Linked DNA regions of Homo sapiens. The protein of the gene in region 3 purifies or fractionates together with the protein of the main gene of each other region. This does not show direct contact. Each region holds a gene or a part of one and is shown on either strand. Other genes may lie near its edges.

Region 1 (7,089 bases), on a different chromosome or scaffold from region 3:
CACCCAGAATTCAGTTTCGCTTTTTCACATTTCTGGAACTTACTCTTTTACAACAGACATAATAAAAATAGTACTAAATAATTCCTGATTCTCATGAAAATTACATTATCTGCTGTATAAATAATAACAGTACCTCTTGGCAAGTCTTTAGAGAATGCTTTGGCATAGTATACAGTCTGCTCTCTGGAGGTATAGGCATTGAGATGAGCACCCATATTTTCAATCTCAAGTTCCAGATCTAACTGGGATCTCTTCTTGGTGCCCTTGAAATAAAAGAGGAAAAACAAATTATGCAAACTCCCTTTATACTTCATCTATTCTACTTCAGATAATGAATATGGAGGACATAAGTTAGTTTCATGCAGGGTCAAATTTGGTTTCTAAAGTACATCAGGTATGGTACGATGGCTCACACCTGTAACCCCAGCACTTTGAGAAGCTGAGGCAGGCAGATTGAGCCCAAGAGATCGAGGCCAACATGGCAAAACCCTATCTCTATGAAAAAACAAACAAACATATATATATATATAGATACTCCCAGCTACTCCAGAAGTAAATGTGGGAGGATGGCTTGAGCCTAGGAGGCGGAGGTTGCAGTAAGCAGATTGCGTCACCGCACTCCAGCCTAGGCAACAGAGCCAGATCCTATCTCAAAAAAAATTAAATAAAAAAAAATAAGGTACATCAGGCTTCAGAAATGGTATACGTTCAGATAACTCCTGCATCCCAAGAGAAAGTTTTCATTTCAGCTTTACAAAGCAATTATCACTACTTATTTTAGATACTGTCCTGGAAAAATAAACATAAAACATGTTATACTACTGAAAGAGCTCTCCCTGCCTCTAAAGAATGAGACTTTGTGCTTATTATCTCTTAAAGAGAGTGCATTTTTGTAAAGTCTTACAACTTGCCTTGAAAGCCATATGCTCCAGAAAGTGTGCTGTTCCATTGTTCTTCTCATTTTCGTATCTACTTCCAGCATCAATCCAGAGTCCAACCTTAATGCAATCAAAGAACAATTAAATAAATTCATTTTATTTATTTGAGGTTGGGGGGAACAGTCTCCTTCCTTTTTCTGACAAATGCTTTCTGGTCTTAACACTAAGATTTTCTTGACCTGAGTGAATTGATAGTTCATTCCTGTGAACTATGAGATTTAAAAATTTCGATCAGGATACTGCTGGGTGCTACAAGTATCTACCTGCCACCTTCAATGAGGATTCTTTGCCCAACTCATTAATCCAGCCAATTAATAACTGTAGTATCAAGAACATCAGAGACTGTCAGAAAACTTCGGTTGAAATCCTGGCTCTGTCATGTATTAGCTGAGTTACCTGAACAAAACCATTTAACTTCTCTCACTTCCTTAACTATAAAACAGGTGTGAGGATGCCCACTACAAACAATTGCTTTTTATCAAATAAGACATCAGTAAAAACACTTGGCAGAGTAGCCCTGCAAACATATTTCTTTCATTATTATCAATACTACTGAAAATAAATAATCAATAATAAGCTACAAGAACAAGATGCAGACAATGCAACAGGATACATATGCACCCTGTAACTAAGTACCACTGGAAGAAAAGGTTCACAACTCATGGAAATCTGTCAAGGCAAAATAACTGTCACCCTTTTTGAACCACCAGCCAACGAAAAAGCTAAAGATTAAAATCAACAATTTGCTACGCTAAATGAAGGGTCACTTAGAGAAGGTTGCCTGAGTCACTTACTGTGCATGTTGAGAGCCCAGAGTCTTCCGAAGCTACTCTGAGTCCACTTTCTAAACATGTTACTCTTGTTTCAGGAACATTCAGAACAACTTGGGTAGCAGCCTGTGTACTTCTTAATCTGTTCTCTCCAAAATATAATGACTGGTTGGGGGTAGGAAGTGGAAGAGACAAAGCAAAACACATTACTAATCTGATATTAAATGTTGCTTTTAAAACCAAATCTATTTTAAATAGGCTGTCTCTATAAAAGAATCTTTCTTCTTGAATTTTGGTTCCACTGAGATCTCTGCCTGGCCTAGAAACATCTGTCACCAGCCACTGTCCTAAAGCCAGCAACGTGTTTATAAACATGCCCTTCCCTCAGGGAAGATGAGCAATTATTATCATTACCCAGAGAGAAATTGACTTTATTTCACTACCTCTCCTAGAAATGTTTTATATTCATTATGGAGAAAACAAGCAGGAAAAAAAAAAAGAGAGGGAAACTATGTAAAACTACCTACACACAAGACAAAACTGACACTCGGGTTTTCATTGTTCAAGAAAAGCAACAGGGTTTGGAAATGGTTAAAAAAAAAAAGAGAGAGAGGATAGGAAGATGGGTCGATGTTCAAAATGCAAATGACTGGCTTTTCGGCCAGAAACTATTCGCCTTTCAGCAGTTTTTCTTTGCCCTTATACAAAAGTCTCACATCCCTTTGCTTAAAGTCAGAGGCTCTCTCATGAGAAAAATGCAAATACATAAAAAATTTTACTTCATTGATGTCCAGGTTCGCGGGAAGCCCAGCTGAGGACGAAGTTCAGTCTTAGGCAAAAATAGAACTCTGGAGCGGTACCCATTTCACTTTTTAGTTTTCCCCAATTTGCAAGCACTACGTTTTTAGTGGTCAAACATGCACTCCTCAGTAGCTGGCGGGAGGAGCCGAAAACCAGGGTCATCCCACACGTCACTAGCAGGTCTCCTGGCGGGTGGCCACAAGCCAGTCACCCCCGGCCAGTTCAGCAGCCCCAGGCCGCCTGGCGCCCGGCGGGTCCGGGTCGAGGAGGCCCTGCCCGACCCACTGTTCGGATCTGTGGCGCCGACTCTCAGGTGCGCTGCGCCGGGTCTGGCGAGATCTCGAGGACAGGACCGGCCTGGAGGGAAGCTCACCCGTCCCGCAGCGCCTCGGATTAGAAGACTCTCGCTGAAACCCCAGAGCCGCCGCCGCGCCGCGGATGACAACACCACTCGAGCCGCCGCAGCCGCCATTTCTGCTAGAAGGAAGGTAGAGGATGAAGGATGTGCTTCCGGGGTCGCGACCTGAGGTCCCAGAGCAGGGAGGTGGGCTCCACCTTGTGGCCGTGATGGGAATGACACTCCTCGAAGCGGTTGTGAAAGCAATCAGGGCCCGACCATGATGCTGAGCGGTCTTTACCAAATGAATTGGGGAGTCTGCAGAAGCCCCTTTATCATCAGTTATTTTATCGATCGCCTACTAAGTGCAAGGCACAAATGCGGTGGAATGAAAGGTAACCTGATGCAATATATCTCACTGGTGGATGGAATTGATTGAAAACAGTGGAATAATATTCATAAGTCACTGCCTTTAAAGGAAAAGTCTAGTGGGAGAGACAGATGCCGTGAGGGGAGGAAACGATGTATCCGTGTTGACCACTATCCACTCTTCGAACCTCTACAATATGGCTCATCTCATTCCATAGAAATTGCCCTTGGTAAGGTCACTAATTGCTAAAAGTTGGACACTTTACAGACTTATGTTACAGTCCTGTTGGAGGATTTGACATTGTTGGCTTCTTTGAAATTCTCTTTTCTCAATATATTCTAGAGCTCCACCTCCTCATAGTTCCCTCTGCACCTTCTTGGACTCCTCTTTATTCACAGATCTGTTTTTTGTTTTTGTTTTTGTTTTTGAGATGGAGTTTCACTCTTGTTGCCCAGGCTGGAGTGCAGTGGTGCAATCTCAGCTCACTGCAACCTCTGCCTCCTGGGTTCAAGCAATTCTCCTGCCTCAGCCTCCCAGGTAGCTGGGATTACAGGCATGTGCCACCACGCCTGGCTACTTTGTATTTTTAGTAGAGATGGGGTTTCACCATATTGGTCAGGCTGGTTTTGAACTCCTAACCTCAGGTAATCCACCCACCTCCACCTCCCAAAGTGCTAGGATTACAGGCGTGAGCCACTGCGCCCAGCCCACAGATCTCTCAAGGAACTAAAAATTGCAAATGCTTTTCTAACTCAGGTAGATGGTATAGTGCTTATTTTGCAATTAAGACACTGAAGTCAAATAACTTGCCCCAGGTTACCCTGCTAGTAATAGGTTAACGCCAAAGACTGTGCTGTGAAACACTACATTTTGCCCTAAAAGTTGGTGTTTGCCAGGACTCTAAGCCTCTTCTACTGAACATTCTCCCTCTGGGTTTTTCCCTCCACTTCAAGACCTGTCTGCCCAACCCAGGCCTTTCTCTTGAGCTCCAGCCCACTTAACCATCAACTACTAGGAAACTACACTTGAATACCCCATTGGAAACTCAATATCAACTTGTCCAAAAGGGAATTCACTGTGTCCCCTGAATCTCTTCCCATATTTGCAATGCCAAACAGCCAATCATACCTACATTTGCCCAAAACTCCAAACCACCCAGAAGCTCCTCTCTTTTTCCATCTTCCACATTCAATTGATACACCCCTTTCCTGCCTCTTCAATCTACTCCAGGCCCATTGTCAGTTTTTTCACATTACTACCTATAGGATCTTTTACAAATGAAACTGTTACGGCAGTCCCATTATGAAGAATCCATCAGGGAGCCCTTGGTCACAATAAAGTAAAGGGTCCTTAGCATGGCAGGTGGGGCCCTTCATGATCTGACTCCCATTTATCTTTCCAGACTCATCTCCCTCCACCTACCCGGCTGCTATGCTTCGCAGGTTCAGTCCACAAGACTCATGATGTAATGTAATAAAGGACGACCAAGGTTATTCTCTCATGTTTCTAAAACAAATGTGTGTTAACCAAAAATAAATACAAACATGCATACATATATACAAAAACATGTAGGTATAATCACAGGAAGCACCTAGGAAGTTTTAGCAAGAATTTGTATTCAATTCTAATATACTTCATGGTATTAATTTATTAGTCATTATTTACAGTCAATATCTTAGAACATAAAGCCTACAGAAATTAAGTGCACCAGAGTAGAGCCAAGAAATCAAAGAATTTGACTACTCCCAAAATAGCCCTACACCCACAACAGTATCCATAACTTTTTTTCTTTTTTTTTTTTTTGAGACGGAGTTTCTCTCTTGTTGCCCAGGCTGGAGTGCAATGGTGCAATCTCAGCTCACTGCAACCTCCGCCTCCGGGGTTCTAGCAATTCCCTTGCCTCAGCCTCCCAAGTAGCTGGGATTACAGGTGCCCACCACCACACCCGGCTACTTCTTGTACTTTTAGTAGAAACGGGGTTTCACCAGTTTGGCCAGGCTGGTCTTGAACTCCTGACCTCAAGTGATCCTCCCGCCTCAGCCTCCCAAAGTGCTGGGATTACAGGCGTGAGCCACTGCACCTGGCCTATTTTAAATGATTTCTTCACTGACTGGATTTTACTGGCAGAGTCATTGCTATTTTTGTTGTTTGGAAATTTTAATCATGGATGTCATATTCCTTTAATTCTTTCATGTTTGAGGATGTCTGCTTTTATCTTTATACTTGAATGACATTTTTGTCTGGATTTAATATTGTTGGGTCACAGTTTCATTTTCTCAGAATTTTATAAACATTACTCCATTATGCTCTTGAGTTAAATGTTTTGGAGAAGTCTGAGGCTAGCCAGATTTTTTCTTTTTTTACCACCCTTAAATGTGACCTGTTTTATCTGCCTAAAAACCTAAAAAATTATTCTTGAAGTTCAGTAACTTAACTAGGCTATATCTTAATGTTGAGTAATTTTTGTGTTGTGATTTTTATCAAAATTTTCAAAAACATAATATGTTTTCATTCTGCAGTTTCACTTCTTCCTTCATTTTAGAGAAAGTCTCTTTGAATACATATTCTGGCATTCCATTCAGTATGTTATCTTTTCAAGGACTGCAGCTCTCCTTATGCTGAATGACTTTATCTGTCCTTCATATTTATTAGCATCTCTCTAACTTTTTAAAGCTTTGTCATTTTCCTCTACTTTTTTTGTGATTATCTCAAGACACAAGTAGGCCTACGCAAACATGCCCTACTAATTTTTAGCAAACGTGCAGAGGCAATTCAATAGATGAAGAATAGCATTTCAACAAATGCTGCTGGAACAATTAGATGTTCATATCCACGGCTCCCCGCTCCCCAACTCCCAATGAACCTAAACCTCACACTTTATACAAAAATTAACTCAAAATAAATCATGGATGCAAATATGTGACATAAAACTATAAAACTTTTAGAAAAACACGTAGGATAAAATATTTGGGATATAGGAATAGACAAGGAGTTTTTAGACCTGATATCAAAAATATAATGCTTAAAACAAGATTAAAGCCAGGCGCGGTGGCTCACGCCTGTAATCCCAACACTTTGGGAGGCCAAGACAGGCAGATCACCTGAGATCAAGAGATCGAGACCATCCTGGCCAACATGGTGAAACCCCTTCTCTACTAAAAATACAAAAATTAGCTGGGCATGGTGGCACGCACCTGTAGTCCCAGGTATTGAGAGGCTGAGGCAAAAGAATCGCTTGAACCTGAGAGGCAGAGGTTGCAGTTAGCTGAGATCGTGCCACTGCACTCCAACCTGGTGACAGAGGAAAACTCCATCTCAAAACAAACAAACAAACAAAAAAAACAAGATTAAAAGCTTTTGCTCTAAAAAAGATGCTGTTAAGAGGATGAAAAGACAAGCTACAGACTGGGAGAAAATATTTGCAAACCACATATTCAGCAAAGGACCTGTGTCTGAATTATGCAAAAAAACCCTCTCAAAAACAGTGAAAAAAAATGGGCAAAAGACATGAACAGACATTTCACTGAAGGAGAAATACAGATGGCAGATAAGCACATGAAAAGATGTCCAATATCATCAATCATTACAAAATGCAAATTAAAATGATGAGCTATCGCTACACATGTAGCAGAATGGCTCAAGTGAAAAACAGCAATAACACCACATGCTGGCAAGGATATAGAAAAACAAGATCACTCATACATTACTAGTGGGAATATAAAACTCCAGAGTAGTACAGCCACTTATTATACAACCCAGTAATTGAACTCCTGGGCATTTATCCCAGAAAGATGAAAACTGAAGTTTACACAAAAACATCTACACATATATTCATAGCAGCTTTACTCATGATAGCCAATAATTGGAAATAAT
Region 2 (7,023 bases), on a different chromosome or scaffold from region 3:
TTTTACTCTACTTGCAAGCCTACAAGTTTTCCTGCCACAGTGTCATGGATGCTGGAAGAAGATAGAAGACTTCTGAGTCAGAAAGAAAGGACCTTATTACTCTCTACATAGCAAGCAGTATAAATTTCATTTTTATACCAGTTTTCCCTTCCCCTCAAGTCCCACAAGAGTGACATAGAGTGGCCCAGGTGAATGCATAAGATTGATTTATATTATAGCTGAAGAATCTCCAGCTTAGGAATCTCAAAATTTTTATAGTGGGCTACAAACAAACCTGCCTAACGTTTTTTCCAGAGTGGGGGCATTCTCTTTATTATATTGGACAATAAACCTGCCCTTTCATCTACTATACTATACTGCAAACATCCAAACCGAAAGTTTTCAGTTCACAAGATGTGAGGAAACTGAAGAGACTCAAGGAGAATTGTCTCCCAACAGGTGTCGTCTTTTACTGAGTTTACTGAGTTGTGAGAATCCTTTCTTCACTCTAGATATAAGATCTTTAGGCTGGGCACAGTGGCTCTTACCGGTAATTCCAGCACTTTGGGAGGCCGAGGTGGGCAGATCACCTGAGGTCAGTAGTTCAAGACCACCCTGGCCAACATGGTGAGACCCCGTCTCTACTAAAAAATACAAAAATTAGGCGGGCATGGTGGCAGGAGCCTGTAATCCCAGCTACTCAGGAGGCTGAGGCAGGAGAATCACTTGAACCCGGGAGGCAGAGGTTGCAGTGAGCCAAGATCGTGCCACTGCACTCCAGCCTGGGCCACAAGAGAGATACTCTGTCTCAAAAAAAAAAAAAAAAAACCAAACAAAAAATTTGACAGATAAATGTTTGCAACTATTTTCTTCTGGCCTGTGGCTTGCTTTTTTATTAACTGTATTTCAGAGGGCAGTTTTTAATTTTGATGAAATCTATTTTATCAATTTTTGCTGTTATGATTTCTGCCTTTCTTATGCTGTTTAAGAAATCTTTCAGCTGGGCAGGCTGGGCGCGGTGGCCCACGCCTGTAATCCCAGCACTTTGGGGGAGGCCAAGGCGGGCAGATCACAAGGTCAGGAAATCGAGACCATCCTGGCTAACACGGTGAAACCCCATCTCTACTAAAAATACAAAATATTAGCTGGTCGTGGTGGCGGGCGCCTGTAGTCCCAGCTGCTTGGGAGGCTGAGGCAGGAGAATGGCGTGAACCTGGGAGGCGGAGCTTACAGTGAGCCAAGATCACGCCACTGCACTCCAGCCTGGGTGACAGAGCGAGACTCCATCTCAAAAAAACAAAACAAAAAAAAAAACAAAAAAAGAAGAAATCTGTCAGCTGGGCACAGTAGCTCATGTCTGTAATCCTAGTACTCTGGGAGGCCGAGGCAGGAGGATCACTTGAGCCCAGGAGTTCAAGACCACCCTGGGTGACATAGTGAGACCTCGATTCTATCAAAAATAAAATTAGCTGAGTGTGATGGCACGCATCTATAGTCCCAGCTGCTTGAGAGGCTGAGGTGGGAGGATCACTTGAGCCCAAGAGGTTGAAGCCACAGTGAGCCAACATCACACCACTGCACTCCAGCCTGGGTGAGAGAATGAGAAATCTTTCACTAACCAATGTCACTAAGGTCTTCTCCTGTTTTCTTCTAGAAATTTACTAATTCTTAAATTTAGGTCTGTGACCCATTTTGAATTAATTTTTCATGTATGATATGAGGTAAAGGTTGAGGCTTATTTTTCCCATACACATAATTGTTCTAGCATCACTGTTAAATGATTAGCTTGGAACTTTTTTTTTTTTTTTTTTTTTTGAGACAGAGTTTCGCTCTTGTCGCCCAGGCTGGAGTGCAATGGTGCGATCTTGGCTCACCCCAACCTCCGCCTCCTGGGTTCAAGTGATTCTCCTGCCTCAGCCTGCCGAGTAGCTGGGATTACAGGCATGCCACCATGCCCAGCTAATTTTGTATTTTTAGTAGAGACGAGATTTCCCCATGTTAGTCAGGCTGGTCTCAAACTCCCAACCTCAGGTGATCCACCTGCCTTGGCCTCCCAAAGTGTTGCGATTACAGGCATGAGCCACTGCACCTGACTGGCACCTTTTTTTCCCCCATAAAAATCAGTTGACTAAGCGTGGGTCTATTTCCATGGACTTTATTCCATTAATCTTCGTGTCTATGCTTTCACCAGTACTATTGTCTTAATTACTGTAGCTTTAAGTCTTGAAATCAGGTAGGATAAGCCCTGCAGTCTTGTTTTATAACTGTTTATATAAATTTTATTGCCACTTTATCAGTTTCTTCAAAAAAGCCTGGTAGGATCTTCTTATAGATTTTTTAAACCCCTACATTATGTATTTCAGGAACAAAGAAAACTCAGCTCCCTTAGAGGAAAATACCACAGGAAAAAATGAGGCCAAAAAAAGGAAGATTGCAGAAACTTCAAATGTTATCACTGAGTCATTGCCATCTGCAGAATCAGAACCTGTTGAAATTGAGGTAGAGATTGCCGAAGGCACCATTGAAGTGGAAGATGAAGGCATCGAAACATTAGAGGAAGTGGCTTCTGCCAAGCAGTCCGTAAAGTACATACAGAGCACAGGTTCCTCTGATGATTCTGCTCTAGCACTGTTGGCAGATATTACCAGCAAGTACCGTCAAGGTGACAGAAAAGGGCAGATTAAAGAAGATGGCTGTCCATCTGACCCCACGAGCAAACAGGTAGAAGGTATTGAAATTGTGGAACTTCAGCTGTCACATGTGAAGGACTTGTTCCATTGTGAGAAATGTAACCGTTCATTTAAATTGTTTTACCATTTTAAGGAGCACATGAAATCACACTCCACTGAGAGTTTCAAGTGTGAAATATGCAATAAACGATATCTTCGAGAGAGCGCATGGAAACAGCACCTAAATTGTTACCACCTTGAAGAAGGTGGAGTCAGTAAGAAGCAAAGAACTGGGAAAAAAATTCATGTATGTCAGTACTGTGAGAAACAGTTTGACCATTTTGGACATTTTAAAGAACATCTTCGAAAACATACAGGTAATGAGCAAATACTTTGTTAAAATTTTTTTTTCCCACATGCACTTCAAATTTAAGTATCTAAATCCTTTTTAAAAAAATAGTGCCTCAGAAGCCATCTCATGTATTATCTCTAATGTGTAGGCTAAGTACACGTTTTTATAGTATTACCTGTTCAAATATTGGTGCTTTAAATGCAAATCAGTATCAACTTTGGAAGTAATTGTTACTTTTATGCCTTGCCCAATTTTTATATTTTTCAAAGAAATAGAGAAAATAGTTTGTGACTTATTTCCTAAAGATCGTAAATAATTAAATCTTATAGTGAGACTTTACCATTTCTATTTTTACATTTCTTGTGTCGTGTTACTTACAGTACATTTACAAGCAATCCCTGACAGCCAGGCGCGGTGGCTCATGCCTGTAATCCCAGCACTTTGGGAGGCCGAGGCAGGCGGATCACCTGAGGTCAGGTGTTCGAGACCAGCCTGGCCAACATGGTGAAACCTCATCTCTACTAAAAATACAAAAATTAGCCAGGCGTGGTGGTGGGCACTCATAGTCCCAGCTACTCTGGAGGCTGAGGCAGGGGAATTGCTTGAACCCGGGAGGCAGAGGTTGCAGTGAGCCGAGATCATGCCACTGCACTCCAGCCTGGTCAATAGAGTGAGACTCCATCTTAAAAAAAAAAAAAAGAAAAGAAAAAAAAGCGGCCAGGCGCGGTGGCTCACGCCTGTAATCCCAACACTTTGGGAGGCCGAGGCGGGTGGATATCTGAGGTCAGGAGTTCAGAGACCAGCCTGACCAACATTGTGAAACCCCGTCTCTACTAAAAATACAAAAAATTAGTTGGGCATGGTGGCAGGCACCTGTAATCCCAGCTACTTGGGAGGCTGAGGCCGGAGAATTGCTTGAACCCGGGAGGCAGAGGTTGCCATGAGCCAAGATCACGCCATTGTACTCCAGCCTGGGCAACAAGGGCAAAACTCTGTCTCAAGGGAAAAAAAAAAAAAAAAAAGCAATCCCTGACATGTTTATACTTCTTTTCTTTTATTTGCCTTTTTTTTTTTTTTTTTTGGCAGATGGAGTCTCGCTCTGTTGCCCAGGCTGGAGTGCAGTGGCACGATCTTGGCTCACTGTAACCTCCGCCTCCCGGGTTCAAGCGATTCTTCTGCCTCAGCCTCCTGAGTAAGCTGGGACTACAGGCGAGCACCACCACGCCCCTGGCTAATTTTTGTATTTTTAGTAGAGACGGGGTTTCACCATATTGGTCAGGCCAGGGTGGTCTCAAACTCCTGACCTCGTGATCCGCTAGCCTCGGCCTCCCAAAGTGCTGGGATTACAGGCATGAGCCACCACATCCGGCCCATGTTTATACTTTTTAATGTACATTGAGTTACCTGCTTTGGCACAGTAGGTTAGTAGGCAGTATATGTTCATCTCTCTCCACCTTTTCAACAGCAAATATGTCAGGCCTGGCGGACATCCAGGGAGCTGAGGAGAATAAGGTCTTTATACTTCTCCTGGGAGCCATGCAGGCATGATGGAAATGTCCTGAGAAATCTACCTCAGGGCCTCGCCCCACATAGTTCTTCATCCCCTATTCCAGTCGTCTCCCTGTCAAGAGTCCCTGACCTTGCTCAGGTTTCTTGCTTGCTCCCACTCCCCGAACAACCTTTGCTGGGTCTCCTACACCAGACACAGTAGCTACCACCAACGAATTGAATCTTGGATAGTTCCTAAACCTACTATTACAAGGGTATGGAGAGAGCAGTTAATACAGCATGCTAAGTATTAGACTTCTGGACATTTGTTCCCAAGTCTTTGTTATATGTGGTGGTTAAGGCTGTTTAGACTGTTAATACAGTAAATACAACATAGATAGCCTACAGTATTCAGAATCTTTCTCTTTGATGCTGGAGTTTGGAGAGCTTCTGGTAAAAGTTTTTTAAAATAGGTTTGTCACTGTCAGTTGGTATACATCACTTGAAATTAAGGAACCACATAGATTCAGATGATGTTATCCCCCTCACTGTCCAAACTTACTGTCAGTATTCGAGGACTGAGTAAATACAGGAATAGCAAAGGGATCTTGTACTTAAGGCTCAGTATGGATTTAAAAGTCTTTAAGGTACTTAGTTTGGATAACTAATAGGCGTTTATGAAATCTTTTGGGAAAATGCTTTCTGATTGCAAACATGTATATATACAGTCTACTTTTGAACAACGTGGGTTTGAACTGCTTGCATCCACTTACATGCAGATTTCATTCAACTAAATATGGATCAAAATTATAGTATTCCCAGGATGCAAAACCCATGTATGTAGAAGACCAACTTTTAGTATGTGTGGTTCCACAGGGCCGGCTGCAGGACTTGAGTGTGCGTGGATTTTGCTATACGAACCAATCCCCCGCATATACCAAGGGACGCCTACCTGTTTTATATAATATTTGGAAACTGCCTACAGTTACAATTTTTGGTCCTTAGAAAACGAATAATAGTCTGTTGGTGAACATTTTTGTGGTAATTGGGTTAATTATGCAAAATGATTGTTGTTATACCAGCAGCACAATAAACAAACATTGGTAAGTAACTTGCAAACTTTGATAGCAGTTTCCAATACCCCAGCAGATAATCAGGATAATCAGTAGCTTTTATAGCCTATGAATGTGAAAGTAGCCGCAGTTACCTCTTTTACCCAAAACATTGCCTACTGACTTTTACCTCTTAGAAAATAGGACAACACGGACCACTTTGGACATCTTTAAATGTGCCTCTCAGGTCTTAGATTTTTTATTTTGGTTTGGACAGCAGAATATAGGGTTAAAGTACATTATGTTGTATGTCTTTGTCTTTCCCTTAGAAATGATGTGAGATAAGTAATTTAAGTAGTTGTTATAAATTACTGAACCATATACCCATTGGAGGAACAGTTGAGCACATAAAGCAAACCGAACCCCCACTTCATTGTTTTTTAACTTCAACCAATTTCTATACTGGTAATTAGTTCCAAGATAGTTGTTGTTCTCTTCTCTCCTCTCCTCTCTCTCTCCTTTGAAACAGGGTCTTGCTGTGTTGCCCAGGCTGGAGTACAGTGGCGCGATCATGGCTCACTGCAGTCTCGACCTCCTGGGCTCAAGTGATCCTTCTACCTCAGCTTCCTGAGTAGCTGGGACTACAGATGTGTGCCACCATGCCCAGCTAATTTTTCTGTTTTTTGTAGAGATGTGGTTTCACCACGTTGCCTAGGCTTGGAACATAGGCATGAGCCACCATGCTTGGCCCTGTATTTCTTTTTTTTTTTTTTTTAGCTTTAACAACAGGAATTCATTTTCTCGCAGTTCTAGAGGTTAGAAGTCCAAGATCAATCTGCTGGTTTCTTTTGAGACCTCTCTCTTTGGCTTGCAGATGGCTAACCTGTGTCCTTACATGGTTTTATCCTCTTTGTGCATGCATCTCTGGTGTGGCCTTGTATTTCTTAATAAGACTGGAAAGTCAAAATTACTTCTTGATCTGTGGGCTGCAGAATGGCTGTTGTGTTTGCAGACTGAAAACAATATTAATCTCCTTGTACCTCTCCCTCTGAACTCTTGGGTGACCAGCTGCATTGTCAGTGAGCAGTAGTATTTTGAAAGGAGTCTTCTGAGCAGTAGGTTTCAACATTGGGCTTAAAATAGTCAATAAACCATGCTGTAAACAGATGTTCTGTCAACCAAACTTTGTTCTTCCGTTTCTGTAGCCCAGGCAGAGTACATGTAATAAGATTCTTAGGGACCCTAGGATTTTTGGAGTGATAAATGACTGATTGGCTTTAACTTAAAGTCACCAGCTGCATTAGCTCCCAACAAGAAAGTTATCTGTCCTTTAAAGCTTTGAAGCCAGTCATTGACTTCTCCCTAACTATGAAAGTCCTAGATGGCATCTTCCAGTACAAGGCTGTTTTGTCTACATTGAATATCTGTTGTTGAGTGTAGCCACCTTCATCAGTGATCTTAACTAGGTATTCTGGATAACTTG
Region 3 (7,834 bases):
TTATGGGAAAAGAGAAAAATTGGAAAAAGGCTAATAACAATATTAAAAATGGCTTTGAGTACATGAAATTGCTGTGGTATAGATGAAGTTATTCACATGGGTGTATCACATATCCACAAGTTTCTTTTTGAATCACCATGTTTACTGGTAGAGGTGATAATGATAACCTTTTAGTAAGCTTTTTTTTTTAAGCCAAGCACTACCCTAAACTCTTTATGTATAATTATCAAATATTCAATCCCTTTGTAGTCTGCTCCCAAGGGACTGTACAGTTTTTTTGAATCTTACTAGTATTTTGTCGTATATGATTGCTACAATAAATGGGCTACTGACTGAAGTCAGGAGATGAATGAAATAGTACTTGTACTGAAACATGATACAATCAAAGATTTAGGATTCTTTCTAAAAGATGGTGCAGGTAAAAAGCCTATCCACCACTGAAGGCAATGGAAGGGTATTAGGCGTCTGTGTGCTGTGAGAGAGCCTCCACTTCGGAGTCACAGATGGCCAAAAGCCATTCAGTAGGGCTGAGGACCTTAGAAGTCCTTTACTTCTACTTGGATGTCTGTGGTGATGAGAACCCACTATACGGAGGCCCTACTTATGTCGCTGGATTCTGGGGAGTGTCTGTCTAAAGCCTGACAGGTGCTGCCAGTTCCTATCCATTTCTCCCTTATTCCCTGCCCTCAAATCTAAAATATAGTAACATAAGGATAAGCCAGGAAATGATGAAAGCAGGTATGATGATGAAGTTCAAGATGGGTTGGCCACTGTAAGCACACCTGCCCCAAGTGACAAGCACAAGTTCAAGATGGGCTGGCCACTGTGAGCACACCTGCCCCAAGTGACAAGCACAAGTTCAAGATGGGCTGGCCACTGTGAGCACACCTGCCCCAAGTGACAAGCACGGTAAAAATGAATAACACTTTCACTGAAGCATGGCGTGTGGATTAGAGGGCTGTAGCTAGTGAGAATATGGTTACTTAGCATGAGTAATTCTAGGTACTTTAGTAATCCAAGTCCCCATCCTAGGATCTAAGAGCTCTGAGTGCAGAGGCACAGATCCCTGTGACTCACTGGGTTACAGAGACAAGAGATGGTTCCCCAGAATCTCCTCTCTCAGCAGTTCAAGGATTCAGTTTTCATATCTTAAAACTCCCATGTCAAAAACGTATGAAAAACTTATCTTCTCATATTTAGACCAAAGACTTTGTAACTGCTAATCAACATCGGAGTTACATAAGGTTAAGTCAGATTCAGCCAAATGAAGGAACAGACTAGAAGACAAGGTTCTCTGTTTATTGGGCTAAACGGGGCAGTAAATTGTGGCTTGTACCTCGCTTCTTAGATCTGCTTCTGGAATAAGCAGTTTATTGACAGTTATCACCACATTGGCAGAGGTTTTGCAAAAATGAAGGGCTCAATCTTTCAGTAAACGCTTTCTTAATTTTTAATCTGACATAGAAAGTTGAAGAAGTAATCTAAAAAATAGAAGGTTTGAGGAATAGTGGTTCTTCCTAGAGACCATAAAGAGCCACAACACAAATGATAGTGAAAAACGGGTTTCAATTTCCATTGAAAATACTCTAAGATACACAGGTTTGAGAATTATATTTTTCTAATTGTAACATTTTGAATTTCATTTCAATGCTGCTGTCCTAAGACAAGTATGAGAAATTAATCCTAGGTCTCCACACCTTAAGATACACTGTGTAAGGCCAGGCATGGTGGCTCACGCCTGTAATCCCAGCACTTTGGGAGGCCGAGGCAGGAGGATCACCTGAGGTCACAAGTTCGACGTCAGCCTGGCCAACATGGTGAAACCCCACCTCTACTAAAAATACAAAAATCACCCGGGCATGGTGGCAGACGCCTGTAATCCCAGCTACTGCGGAGGCTGAGGCAAGAGAATCCCTTGAACCCGAGAGGCGGAGGTTGCAGTGGGCCGAGATCGCGCCATTGCACTCCAGCCTGGGTGACAGAACAAGACAAAAAAAAAAAAAGATACACTGGGTAATCACTAACCCATTATTCCTTGTGGCGTTACGAGGTCGGACCAATCCTTGATATCCTCAAATTTCACCTTAATGAGGCTGACACCTTTCAGCTTATCGACTGGCAACTCCTTTAGGTATTCTAGACGGCTAAAGAAGAACATTTTTGGCACAGCTCCAGCCTTGAGAGCGTCTGAAATGAGCCTGCGACCTTCCAGCAGGATCTTCCCTTGTTTTTCCCGAAATGGCCTGGACTTTACTATTGTCATTACACTGCTGTAGATGGAAATAAAAAAAAAAAACAGGTAACTATCAACATCCTTGTTACTGAGACACGCTTAGTTGTAACAGAAATAAAGAGCTACGGAGAGGGCCGGGCGCGGTGGCTCACGCCTGTAATCCCAGCACATTGGGAGGCCGAGGCGGGCGGATCACCTGAGGTCAGGAGTTCCAGATCAGCCTGGCTAACATGGTGAAACAAAAACAACAACAAAGAGCTAAGGAGAAACAGAAGCTAATTCCAAAGACGCTTATTCGGCCCTCTGTGCATAATACAAAAACCAGCGGGCTGTACTGGAAGAAGTCCTCCATCGGAAGGAGGTTAAGGTTCCGCTGTGCGACGGGAAGGGAAACGAGAACATTCGACAGGCTCAAGAACCACATCACCTCAGCCTCCTGTCCCCGGGATAAGCTTTATCGTAGCGAAGCCCAGACTCTTCCCAGGTGCTGGGAGCGCGGGATGCGGACTCCTCGAGCGGTTGTTTCTCTCGTTGCTCCTGGGCACTGGCCTCAGATGGTGCCTTGCGGGGCTGCTTCCCAGGAGCGCGCTTCTGTTCCACCACCTCTCCGGAAGGAAACACCACTTTCACTGGGCTCCGCCGCAGCGCCCGGACCCAGCGCCTCGCGTCAAGGTCCCAAGCCTGGACCACCTGCAGCAACGGTCGCACGACAAACCTCGCGGGTCTCACCAGCGCCGCCATGTTCCCTGAGACCCGGGCTGCGTCACGAAAGCGCGCCGTCGGCGGCTAGTGACGTCACGGCCCGTGGCGCCCTTCGTGGACTGGGCTGTACGGTGCGCGTGACGGCTGCGTGCGGCGGGAATCATGGCTGCTCGCAGAGCTCTGCACTTCGTATTCAAAGTGGGAAACCGCTTCCAGACGGCGCGTTTCTATCGGGACGTCCTGGGGATGAAGGTGCAGGCCGGGGCCGACAGGGGCTGGCGCGCGAGGCTGGAACCGGCGCCCGAGCCGGCCCTGGCGGAGGGAGGGGAAAATGGGTGTGTCGTGAACCTAAGCCGGAGGGTGTCCGACCTTAGGCCCTGCGCGGTGTTCAGCTTCAGGAGCGTGGCGAGTTGCCGTTGGGGATCATAGGCCTTGGAGAAGGGCCTAACACGATTAGTCCCCGCGGTGTGCCCACGCACGTCCTTTCATTTAAGCCACTCGTAAACGTTTATTGAGCCCCGCCCTTGTGGAGCTTACCGTCTACCGGAAAAGACGGTAAATAAAATGTTATATAATGCTTTCTAGTTAATATTTGTGTTTTCCGGTTTGGAGCCTTTGATGTAGATAAAATCAGCGTATTCAGAGTTCTGCTTCTAGCAAGGCTGGTCTGAATAGTCCGTTTCGGATACTCAGTCTCTGAATATATGCTCCAACTCTCAACCCATCTGCTTTTCAACAGCACCCAGAAGCGGTCTGTCTCGGGTCCTGAGGAGCTGTTATTTGCAGGATTCAGTTGGTTGGGGAACTGGGTTTTGGGGACCTCCTTTGATAAGCCAGGGAGGTAGGGAACACACCACTAAGGAAGACTTGAAAGGTGCAAGAGCGCGGTTTAGTGTATAGACGGTGCAATAGACGGGGATCTGAATTCGTCAGGTCATTTTTAAAATATCTGCTATTTTCAGGGTACTACGTTGAGTTTTGGCAACAAAGGTGCAAATGACCCTGATATATATCCTCCATTAGAGCTCATGGCCTGGGTTGGGGTGGGAGTTGGAACTGGATTTGTACGTAGATGATGGTAATGGAAGTCAGAATTTGATAGTGAAAAACCACCAAACTTTCGATAGCAGAAACCACAGAGCTGTCCCTTGTTAGTATTTCCTCGTCGATCAAAAGGTTGTTGCAAAGATTAAACACGTGCCGGCGCGGTGGCCCACGCCTGTAATCTCAGCACTTTGGGAGGCCAAGGCGGGTGGATCACTGGAGGTCAGGAGTTGGACACCAGCCTGGCCAACATGGTGAAACCCTGTCTCTACTAAAAATACAAAAATTAGCCGGGCATGGTGGCACACGCCTGTAATCCCAGCTACTCGGGAGGCTGAGGCAAGAGAATCGCCTGTATCTGGGAGGCGGAGGTTGCAGTGAGCCGAGATCGCACCATTGTGTTCCAGCCTGGATGACGAAAGCAAAACTCCGTCTCAAAAAAAAAAAAAAAAAAAAGATTCAACACCTTATTATATGTATAGTATTTAACATATCGGTAATAGTAGATTATATAAGTGTTAGCCACTATTATAAAAATACAAAAGAAGGAGCGGTTTTCCAACCTGGGTGATGAGGAAATAATTCATGTAGACCTTGTATTCGAGTTGACTTTTTTTTTTTTTTTTTTTTTTGAGGTGGAGTCTTGCTCTGTCGCCAGGCTGGAGTGCAGTGGCGCGATCTCGGCTCACTGTAAGCTCAGCCTCCCGGGTTCACACCATTCTCCTGCCTCAGCCTCCCGAGTAGCTGGGACCACAGGCGCGTACCACAACACCCGGCTAATTTTTAAAAATATTTTTAGTAGAGACGGGGTTTCACCGTGTTAGCCAGGATTCGAGTTGACGTCTAAAGATAGGATATCCACAGGTAGATGAGAGGAGGAGCTACATAGTAAAACTGAAGAGCCAGTGCGGAGATGGCACATGTTTGCGAAGCCGCTGGTTTTATGTGCCTTTAGTTGAGGTTGCTTAGTTGAAGTTAAGGAGATGGGATATCAGGATGGACAGGTCGGCATTGCTTCTAATAGTATCTTGAATGCTATGCTAAAGAATTTGGATTTTATGCTGCAGTAAGATGGGAGCTCACTTATGTTCTTAAACAGGGTGGTGATGGGATCAGTGCTTTGTGCTTTAGGCATGTGCTTTTTTGGTGTTATTAAGGAAGGATATCAATAAGGATTTTTTTATTTTTTATTTTTTATTTTTTTTATGTTGAGACGGAGTCTCGCTCTTTCGCCCAGGCTGGAGTGCAGTGGCGCAATCTCGGCTCACTGCAAGCTCCGCCTCCTGGGTTCACACCATTCTCCTGCCTCAGCCTCCCGAGTAGCTGGTACTACAGGCGCCCGCCACCACGCCCTGCTTATTTTTTGTATTTTTAGTAGAGATGGGGTTTTACTGTGTTAGCCAGGATGGTCTCGATCTCCTGACCTCATGATCCACCCACCTCGGCCTCCCAAAGTGCTGGGATTACAGGCGTGAGCCACCGCGCCCGGCCAATAAGGATGATTTTTAATAGTCTGAGCGAAGCGTTGGGAACTTCAACTGGCAGGAGCCGTGGGAATCAAAAAGGAGGGCTAAAGCTAACACGTTGAGAGCCCGCTGTGTGCAGGGTTCTGTGAGATGCTTTCATAACATCCATTCCCATCACATGTTAGGAGACTGAGACTCAGATTCTAATTTGCTCAGAGTTACACAACTACTAAATGACAGAATTCCAAATCAGACTTTTTTTTTTTTTTGAGTTTGAGTTTTGCTCTTGTCACCCAGGCTGGAGTGTAATGGTGCAATCTCAGCTCATTGCAACCTCTGCCTCCCGTGTTCAAGCAATTCTCCTACCTCAGCCTCCTGAGTAGCTGGGATTACAAGCGCCCACCACCATGCCTGGCTAATTTTGTATTTTTTATATTTTTAGTAGAGATGGGGTTTCACTGTGTTGGCTAGGCTGGTCTCGAACTCCCGACCTCAGGTGATCTGCCCACCTCAGCCTCCCAAAGTGCTGGGATTACAGGCGTGAGCCACGATGCCCATCTTTTTTTTTTTTTTTTTTTTTTTTTTTTTAATTTGAGATGGAATTTTGCTCTTGTCACCCAGGCTGTAGTGCAGGGGCACGATCTCGGCTCACTGCAACCTCCATCTCATGGTCCAAGTGATTCTCCTGCCTCAACCTCCTGAGTAGCTGGGATCACAAGCACACGCCACCACGCCTGGCTAATTTTTGTATTTTTAGTTGAGACGGGGTTTCACTATGTTTGCCAGGTTGATCTTGAACTCCTGACCTCAGGCAGTCCACCCACCTTGATCTCCCAAAGTGCTGGTATTATAGGCGTGAGTCACTGTGCCCGGCCCAAATCAGACTTCTTTAATGCTGAAGGCCACACTTTTTCCCACTGCATAGCACTGCTTACCAATCTAAATAGATTTCACAACTGATTTGGTAGCCTGACCCTTGGTGTCAAGCTGTTCGTCCTTCCACTGCTTCTATCCTGGGAGAAGTGTAAAGCTCATTTGCTTTTGTTCTTTTACAAGTAAAGCTTATAAATGATAATGTTTGTGTTTTGACATTTTAGTCTGTGCTAAAGACGCTGTGAGCAGTACTAGCAACACTTCACAATTTATTCTAAATCTCACACCAGGTTCTGCGGCATGAGGAATTTGAAGAAGGCTGCAAAGCTGCCTGTAATGGGTATGATACCTTGTTTCTTAAAATCTCCTTTAGGCTCTGACTACACCCGGATAACAGAAGACAGTTTCTCAAAGTGAGTATAAAGCAGTGGAATTAATTAAGGAGGCAGTAAATTAGGGAGGCAACTTCAGGAGCGTCGGGAACACATACTGTTTCTCTGCACTCTCATGAGTATAAAGCAGTGGAATTAATTAAGAAGGCAGTAAATTAGGGAGGCAACTTCAGGAGCGTCGGGAACACATTTCTCTGCACTCTCATACAACACCTGTGGGACACAAAGGGATTCTCCAGCTCTCTAACACCAGCCGGCTGTCCTGTTATTTAATTGATTCTGACTCTACCTGGAGTTAATGTCAGATCCTGCAAGTTAAGGGCTCAGTCCCAGAAGATTTTCCGCCACGTCAGGCGCCGGTCACAGTCTGGATCTTCAGGATTTCCGATGACCAACTACAAGTCAGGGCTCCCGCTCCTGCTTCCTTGGGTTTGATAGTCTGCTACAGTGGCTCATGGAACTAAGGGAAACGCTGGAAACACTTACTTACATTTACTGGTTTATCATAAAGAGTACGAGTCAGAAATGGCTGGACAGAGGAGATACACAGGGCAGGGCATGGGGAGTGGGTGGCAGAGCTTCCATGCTCTTCTGGGCAGGCTCCAATCCAGCACCTCCCTACGTTCAGCATCCCAGAAGCTCATGAGTCTCATTGTTCAAGCCTAATAGAGCCCAGTCTCCATCCCTTTCCTTCCCAGAGGTTGGTGGATGGGACTGAAAGTTCAGTCCTCTAATCATTTGTCTTTCTGGTGACCAGCCCCATCCTGAGTCTATGTAGAGGCCCCACTCTAAGTCACTTCATTAGCATAAACTCAGGTGTGACTGAAAGGGGCTCATTATGAATATAACAAAAGATATTCCTATCAGGAAATTCCAGAGGTTTTGGGAGCTCTGAGACAGGAACCAGGGACAATGACCAGATATGTTTCATATTATGCCACAAATGCAAATAAGTACATGCTCTAGATGAAGCAGCGGCTTTCCAGTATCTTTTTTTTTTTGAGACAGAATCTCACTTTGTCACCCAGGTGGGAGTGCGGGGTCATTATCCTGGCTCACTGCAACCTCTGTCTTCTGAGTTCAAGCAATTCTCCTCCCTCAGCCTCCCTAGTACGTGGGACTAT
Region 4 (7,137 bases), on a different chromosome or scaffold from region 3:
GTGTGTGTGTGATGGGGTCTCACTCTGTCACCCAGGCTAGAGGAGCATGATCATAGCTCACTCACTGCAGCCTCAAATTTGAGGGATCCTCCTGGGCTCAAGCTATCCTCCTGCCTTAGCCTCCCAAGTAGCTAGGACTGTGCCTAGCTAAAATACCAAACTCTTGATTTCAGCTCCTTTTGTCATCATTTGTCCATTTCTTCTACAATCTTAAATTTTTTTGACTGGGGTTTCTATGTTGCTGAATTTGGTGACATTTTCACTAACCCAGAACACACACACACACACACACACACACACACACACACACAGCCCCATTAAAGTTCTTTCCTTCAATGAAATTGGCAAAGGGGCATAAAGAAAACTGGAACCTAAGGACCCAGTGAGGAAGCAAAGTTCCACTTTCCACTGGAAACTGGTCTTTTACAATAATCCCATTGCACCTAGGAGCTGGACCAGGCTGTTATTTTAGAGTTTAAAAGTTGTCCTCCCTTCTTCTACCTGGCTACTGGCTTGGGGCTTTAGGTGGGTGAGGCCTACCTCCACAAGAAAAATCCACAGTGAAAATGGTGACAGTTGGAGGGTGCTGGAGTTGAGCTTAGCCTTCCTCACTTCAGAAGAGCTAAATGCATACAGGAGTGCAACAGAAGTCAGGAATCTATTGCCAGAGGGGCCAGAGAGGGGCAAGGGCCTTCCTGCTCTAGGGCCCTTCCCCAGAAGATGTTAGCTATGGGTCAAGTCTCTACCTCCTCCCCAACCCCCATTCTCCATTGCATCCTTGGAACCAGGAGCCCAGAAACCTGCCAGCCCAGATGACCAGGACCATGTTTGAGATGCATAAATTTGGTCCTCTGGATCCTTCAAAAGTACACTGTATTTGTCACTCCCCGTAGACCCTCATGCAATAAGTTCTTCATGCTCTGTACATCGATTCTTTTTCTCCAGCAGTTCTGAGCAATGCTTCAAAAACGAAACATCAGATTCCTTGTAAAGTTAAAAGGAACAGATTTTTTTCCCACATACCATGAATTTCTCATTGATTGGTTTAGTTACAATATCTAATGTGTCCACAGGTATGTTTTAAAAGTTCCTTTATGGGGCAGAGAGAGCATTTTTTTAATACTCTGGTTTCACTTTTTTGCATTTAAATACTTTCTCACATACTCAATATTTATAAAAGGGTTAGAGTTCATTTTAACAAATCCCATTAAATAGGCAGGGCTTTTCAAGGTCTTGCCTATGAATTTCCTCATTTCAAGCACTGTTTAGTCCAGGTAAGCTCCAATAGAACCTGAGAACTTGGGACTGCCAGGCCAACTCTAGGTACTAGTTCCTGACATTTCTTTGAATATTTGGGTGGTCACATTTGTTTTCTTTGGTCATACTTACCCAACTGGACCTCTTTTTTGTTGAAATGTGAACTCTACTGCTAGCCAGTTAAAGTTCATTGTTTTTCAGAACTTTGATTTTGAAGATGAATATGACTTTAACCTGGCCATCATGTACTGCTTTTTCATAGTTAATTCAAAACAGAGCAGAACTCTGGGGATTAGTTCAATAGAAACAATGTATTCTTCAGGATCTTTCTCTAAGTAGAGGAACTTTCTTGACCCTTACACAGCAATATATGGACTTTTTGGACTACCAGCTCATGGTTATTCTTAATGTGATCCAGACCCCAGGGCCATCCCCAGGAAAAGGAAGCAAAGCACCTCCCCACAGTAGGCCTGTGCTAGACACAGTGGACACACAGTGGAAACAAGGTCCCTGCCCAAAGACCTCAAAATTTATTGTGAGAGATGAATTGGTAATTAAATAGCTGATTATTTTAAAAGCCCTAATACAGTTGTGTTTCATGTACATAACTGTAAATGAATGTAAAAAGTGCTGTAAAATCACAGTGGGAGGGATTCATTCTTGCAGTGAGGAAGAAGGATGAGGATTGAGGAAGACTTCAAAGAGGTGAGTTTTGAAATAGGGTTTGAAGGACAAGTAAGAGTTTACTAGGCAGAGATGCATGGAAAGAACATTCCAGGCAGCAGAGACAGCTAAAATAAATAAATAAATAAGTCGCAGAGTAAGGAAAAGGATGGGAATGAGAAGTGGTTCAGTGTTACTACAGCATAGAGCAAGCTTGTCCAACCCACAGCTCAGGATGGCTTTGAATGAGGCCAACACAAATTAGTAAACTTTATTAAAATATGAGATATTTTTACAATTTTGTTTTGTTTTTGCTTATTAGCTATCATTAGTATTAGTGTATTTTATGTGTGGCCCAAGACAATTCTTCTTCCAGTGTGGCTCAGGGAAGTCAAAAGATTGGACACCCCTGGCATAGAGTATTTTGGGGTGACATGATGGGAGCTGGAGAAGTAGGTAGGGGTCAGAATTCAGAAGGCCTTGGACACCAGCCTAAAGGCTTAGAGTTGCTCCCATTGGCCATGCACTCACCAAAGGTGTTCACGTCCCTCTTTTGGCTGTTAGATTGGATGGGCTCAATCTTTTGGCCCTCTGTCTCTAGAATAGAGCCGCTGCTTTTCTACTGGGCCCACTATTTCTTCCTGGTCCTCTGATCCCCTTAGCACTACACAGATCTCGATATTTGCCTCGGGTATCAAGGCTCTGAAAATGATCAGGATTTAGAGGAGATGGCTCATTTTCAGAAAGAGTTTTATATTCTCCCTCTGGCCTTATACACTACAGGCAAATGGCACCGATGTTTTGGAGTTGGGCCAGTTGGGCCTTTTCTCCCCTCAAGAGAGGAGGATTCGATATTCAGTGTTTCTGAATTTCATGCTTAGTTCTTAAGCCATTTCCCATTTGCCCTAAGAAATAAGAGCTGGCAGCAAGCTGCGCTGTTTTTTTCTAAACGGGAAATGGGTTAAGCATTTGTGATCACCACTGAATGAGTGCCAGAGCTGGTTAGTGATCTTCCTGTTCAATCCGAGGTCACCTAACTAGATAACAAAGAGCTGAAACTAAAAGTCCGGTCTCCTGACTCCCAATCCAGTACTCTTTCTGGTGTGCTCCAGCTTCTGGCTCTGCTTAGCCAATTATGGAACAGACAGAATGTACTTGGCTGCCCCAAACGGCTAAAGGGCAGTTCTGTTCCCAAAATGGAATTCTGTTGTGCCTCAAGCTAGGCAGCATAATTGTGTGTCTTTTGGTAACTCCCTGTCTTCTTCTGTAAAATGGGAGTAGAGCCTACTTAATCCTGCAGCTACTTCTAAGATCAGGGATTGGGGCGTGGTGGGCTGTTCTGCAGCTGTTTTGTGATGGATGAGGGATGATAGATCTATGTTCAAGTAGCGGAATCTTAGAGTCAGGAGTTGGAAGGAATCTTGGAGGTGGTCTGTGGTGACAGGAAGCCTCTTCCAATAGACTGAACACGGAAGACTTCCTAGAGCCGGAGGACAAGGGTTTCTTTCCTCTTAGCAGTGAGCTTCTTGTTTTTGGAAATGCTCAAGCCAAGAATGGATGTTCAGGCAGAGGGGATTCCGCTCGGAAGGGGCTTTCTGCACTGAAGTGGTGGCCAGCGGGAAACTCCAGGTTTCCAACTCCTGCACAAATCCTTTCTAATATCCATCCACTCAGGTGAGCTGGCAGGGCAGTAGCTGTGCAGGGTTCAGGGTCATTATATGTCAATGACCTTCAGCACGGATTACTAACAACAGTAACATCCGTTACCGTTTACTGCTTTCCTATTAAGCACCATGCACTGTGCATAACATGTTATCTTTATCTCATATCTAGAATTTTGGGAGGTACTTTGAATCATTACGATCTATCTACTTCTTAGGTGAGGAAATAGAGGTTTAAAATTTAGTCCACAGTCTCGCAAGGATGGAGCCTGGATCAAATTTTGGGTTATCAGATTCCAATCACGTTTCTTAGCTTTTCTTTTTTTTTTCCAACTCCAGTTTCTGTCTTGCTCCAAAAAAGGGGAAGGAGCGGCTGCGGCGCTCGGTTTCCCGCCTCCTAGGGAAGGGAAGGGAGACGAGCAGCGCGGAGGCTGGGGCCCCCTTCCGGGCGGGGCCTACTAGTGGGCGGGGCCTGTCAGTGAGCGGCCCCTGCCCGGAAGGAGCCAGTCCGGGGCGGAGCCGATGGCCTTACAGGGGCCGGAAGTGGCCTGCGGGCGGAGAAGTGCCTCAGGAGTCCTGACGCAGTGTCTTGGGCGCTAACGGCGGCGGCGGCCTTGTGTTTAGACTCCAGAACTCCCCACTTGCCGCGTTCTCGCCGCCGCAGGCTCCCGGGACGATGGTGCCCCGCCTGCTGCTGCGCGCCTGGCCCCGGGGCCCCGCGGTTGGTCCGGGAGCCCCCAGTCGGCCCCTCAGCGCCGGCTCCGGGCCCGGCCAGTACCTGCAGCGCAGCATCGTGCCCACCATGCACTACCAGGACAGCCTGCCCAGGTGAGCCTGGCCTCCGGGTCCCCGCCGCCCGCCGCCGTCCCAGGATCGGCCCCAACCTGACTGCAGTCACTCATGACTCCTCTAGTGAACCCGTTTCCGCCCCCAAGCCCCTACCATGGAGGCTGCCACAGCCCCTAATCTGGAAGTCTTGGGACTTTTCACAATCTCCTAGCACAGGAACCTCAGAACCCTCAAATTCTCTTCCAGAACCCCTCGATGCTATCTCAGATTCTCCATCTTGAACGCTTCTCAGATTCCCTCTCCTTTAACCTAACTTCCAGCCAGCTATCCTGAGTCCTCTTCTCCCTGAAAAATGCCAGACCTGCATATTTCCAGCGCCGCTGTAATCCCTCGACTATGGTGTCTCCTGAAGTACTTTAATGACTGCCTCACATTCCTACCCGGAATATGGGTAGGCTGATTCCTAATACATCATGGTTACCATTCCTTAACTTCTCCCAGCACCGCCTTCACCCCTGTCACTCAGGACCCTCAGCCCCACCTCCCATTTCTCCAGTACTCTGTTCTTTCACCCCCCATGAGCCCCCACAAGCACAGCCCTGAAGTGTTCACCCTTGTCCTCAACTGACCCTCCCCCATGTTTTTAAATCTTTAATCTCCTAAATCCAGTGTTCACCCGGAAACCTTTCACTCTCTCCAAGCCCTCCTCAACAGGTTCCTCCCCTCAAAATATCCTTCCTCACCCACAGTACCCCTTGTAAGTGCAGCTCACCCTCACAGAATTCTAGACACCACCCTCAGTACCCCATCCACACTCCATCATACTCAGATCCAGGGTCCACCCAAATTTCTCTTCTCCTCCTCACCACTGGCTACCCTGCCTTCGAAACACTTCACCCAGAATCGACTTCCCCTCTGAAAAGAGCCCTAGTAAATCCTCTTCCCCTTCCCTCCCCCAGTACTTTCTTAAATCCAGCTTCCAGTTCTTCCAGCCTTCGAACTCCGCTTTCGTCTGAGTTGCCAGATCTCCTTCTTCAATATTAGAAATTTTCTTCACCCTCTAAACCAAACCTAAACTAACTTCTAACTTACTGAGTGAGTAACTCAGTTCCTGGAGCCAAGTTCAAAATTTGTCTCAAAGACCCTTCTCACCTTATTTCTCACCAAACTGCCCTCAGGGATTCCCCACACTCCAAGAGCTAGAGGCCAGGCTTCTTCCCCATGTGTGGAACATTGTGTCACAGGCCTCACCCGAGCTGCTGGGTTGTTTTTCTCTGCATCTGGGACCACTTAACCCAACGTCATCACTACATACCCTCACCCTCTCAGGAGGATCGAGTGATTCTTGTGAAATTACATTTTGTGCAAACATCTAAGACATGAAAATGAGATTATCTACACGTGGCAGGAGGGAGGAAGAAAAAGGGGCTTTGTGCCTGTGGCATAAGCCTGGTACATGCTTCCACCCTGTCAACCTGTGTGTATGAGCTGAGCCAGTATATGGGTGAAAGGTGAGGACTGACAGAACCTGTCTTCACTTGCCAAGTTCAGAGTCAGATGGTCACTGACTTTCAGGCAGGCCTGGGCCCCACCCAGGTTTAAGATCAGAGGGATTTTCTGCACTTTAGAATTGGAAAGCTGGAAAGAATATTCAAGATTATTTATTCCAACCCCATCCATAGCACAGTCTGTAGGAATCTGGAGGTACCAATTCAAACTCCAGTTCAAATAGTACCACTAGTCACCTACGCATAACCTTAAGCAACCAACCTCCCCCAGACCTCCATTACCTTATTTGTAAATTGGGAGTTAGATGAGAGATGAGATTCCTTCTGTCGCTCAGATTCTAGACTGGTAAAATGTATAATCTTTCACACTCACTCATTGATGTCACACTTGGTGAAAAGCCCTGACTTTGAGGTCTGGTAGAATGTAGTTGCAGATTCTGGATCTGCAAGTCTTTAGCTATAATTTGGGGCAATTCTGTTCACTTCATTGAGCCACAGTTTTATTTTGGTTTTTTTGAGACAGTCTCGCTCTGTTGCCCAGGCTGGAGTGCAGTGGCCCTATCTCGGCTCACTGCAACTTCTGCCTCCCGGGTTCAAAGGATCCTCCCGCCTCAGCCTCCCAAGTAGCTGGGATTACAAGCATGTGCCACCACACCCAGCTAATTTTTGTATTTTTAGTAGAGATGGAGTTTCACCATGTTGGCCAGGCTGGTCTCAATCTCCTGACCTCAAGTGATCTGCTCTTGGCCTCCCATCTGGGACCACAGGCATGCACCATCATGCCTGGCTGATTTTTTGTATCTTTTATAGAGACAGGGTTTCGCCATGTTGCCCAGGCTGGTCTTGAACTCCTGGACTCGAGCAATCTGCCTGCCTCGGCCTCCCAAAGTGCTGGGATTACAGGTGTGAACCACCGTGCCCAGCTTCACTCCAGAAATTTTTAAGTAGGACTTTTTTAAATCAAATTGCCATTGTCTCTAATCTAGAATTTTGTTTAAAAGGAAGAAGGTAAACTTTCATGAATATTCCTACTGTAATAAAACTAAATCTTAAACATATGTAGGCAACTGGAATTATGAGGTAGCTGAGATAGTATTTGGAATTTTTCTGAGTAAGTCAGTGAATGTAAGGGGATCTGTGGTGTTAAAGTGTTGTAAATGGGTACTTAGTGCAGTCTAAGTCCATAATGGCAGTAAATAATTGATTTATTTTTGTCATATTATGGATAAACATGCATTACAAATAAACTGATGAACCAC

Evidence for each region.
Region 1: the proteins of MRM3 (region 3) and PMPCB purify together in Homo sapiens (affinity purification with mass spectrometry; 3 studies listed by BioGRID and IntAct, with this or other methods). This does not show direct contact.
Region 2: the proteins of MRM3 (region 3) and ZNF131 purify together in Homo sapiens (affinity purification with mass spectrometry; 3 studies listed by BioGRID and IntAct, with this or other methods). This does not show direct contact.
Region 4: the proteins of MRM3 (region 3) and CPT2 purify together in Homo sapiens (affinity purification with mass spectrometry; 2 studies listed by BioGRID and IntAct, with this or other methods). This does not show direct contact.

Annotation. Positions count from the first base shown.
Region 1 is NC_000007.14:103,293,352-103,300,440, reverse strand, and holds the start of PMPCB (mitochondrial-processing peptidase subunit beta isoform 1 precursor), read right to left. Parts: upstream 3,007-7,089; 5' UTR 2,982-3,006; coding exon 2,883-2,981; intron 1,874-2,882; coding exon 1,733-1,873; intron 999-1,732; coding exon 912-998; intron 264-911; coding exon 134-263; intron 1-133. UniProt on the Homo sapiens protein: Catalytic subunit of the essential mitochondrial processing protease (MPP), which cleaves the mitochondrial sequence off newly imported precursors proteins. Preferentially, cleaves after an arginine at position P2.
Region 2 is NC_000005.10:43,158,907-43,165,929, forward strand, and holds part of ZNF131 (zinc finger protein 131), read left to right. Parts: intron 1-2,342; coding exon 2,343-3,025; intron 3,026-7,023. UniProt on the Homo sapiens protein: Plays a role during development and organogenesis as well as in the function of the adult central nervous system. May be involved in transcriptional regulation as a repressor of ESR1/ER-alpha signaling.
Region 3 is NC_000017.11:777,519-785,352, reverse strand, and holds the start of MRM3 (rRNA methyltransferase 3, mitochondrial isoform 1 precursor), read right to left. Parts: upstream 3,001-7,834; 5' UTR 2,975-3,000; coding exon 2,661-2,974; intron 2,271-2,660; coding exon 2,026-2,270; intron 1-2,025. Other genes in the region: GLOD4 (glyoxalase domain-containing protein 4), read left to right, coding at 3,098-3,187, 4,615-4,739, 6,609-6,731. UniProt on the Homo sapiens protein: S-adenosyl-L-methionine-dependent 2'-O-ribose methyltransferase that catalyzes the formation of 2'-O-methylguanosine at position 1370 (Gm1370) in the 16S mitochondrial large subunit ribosomal RNA (mtLSU rRNA), a conserved modification in the peptidyl transferase domain of the mtLSU rRNA.
Region 4 is NC_000001.11:53,192,687-53,199,823, forward strand, and holds the start of CPT2 (carnitine O-palmitoyltransferase 2, mitochondrial isoform 1 precursor), read left to right. Parts: upstream 1-4,137; 5' UTR 4,138-4,257; coding exon 4,258-4,409; intron 4,410-7,137. UniProt on the Homo sapiens protein: Involved in the intramitochondrial synthesis of acylcarnitines from accumulated acyl-CoA metabolites.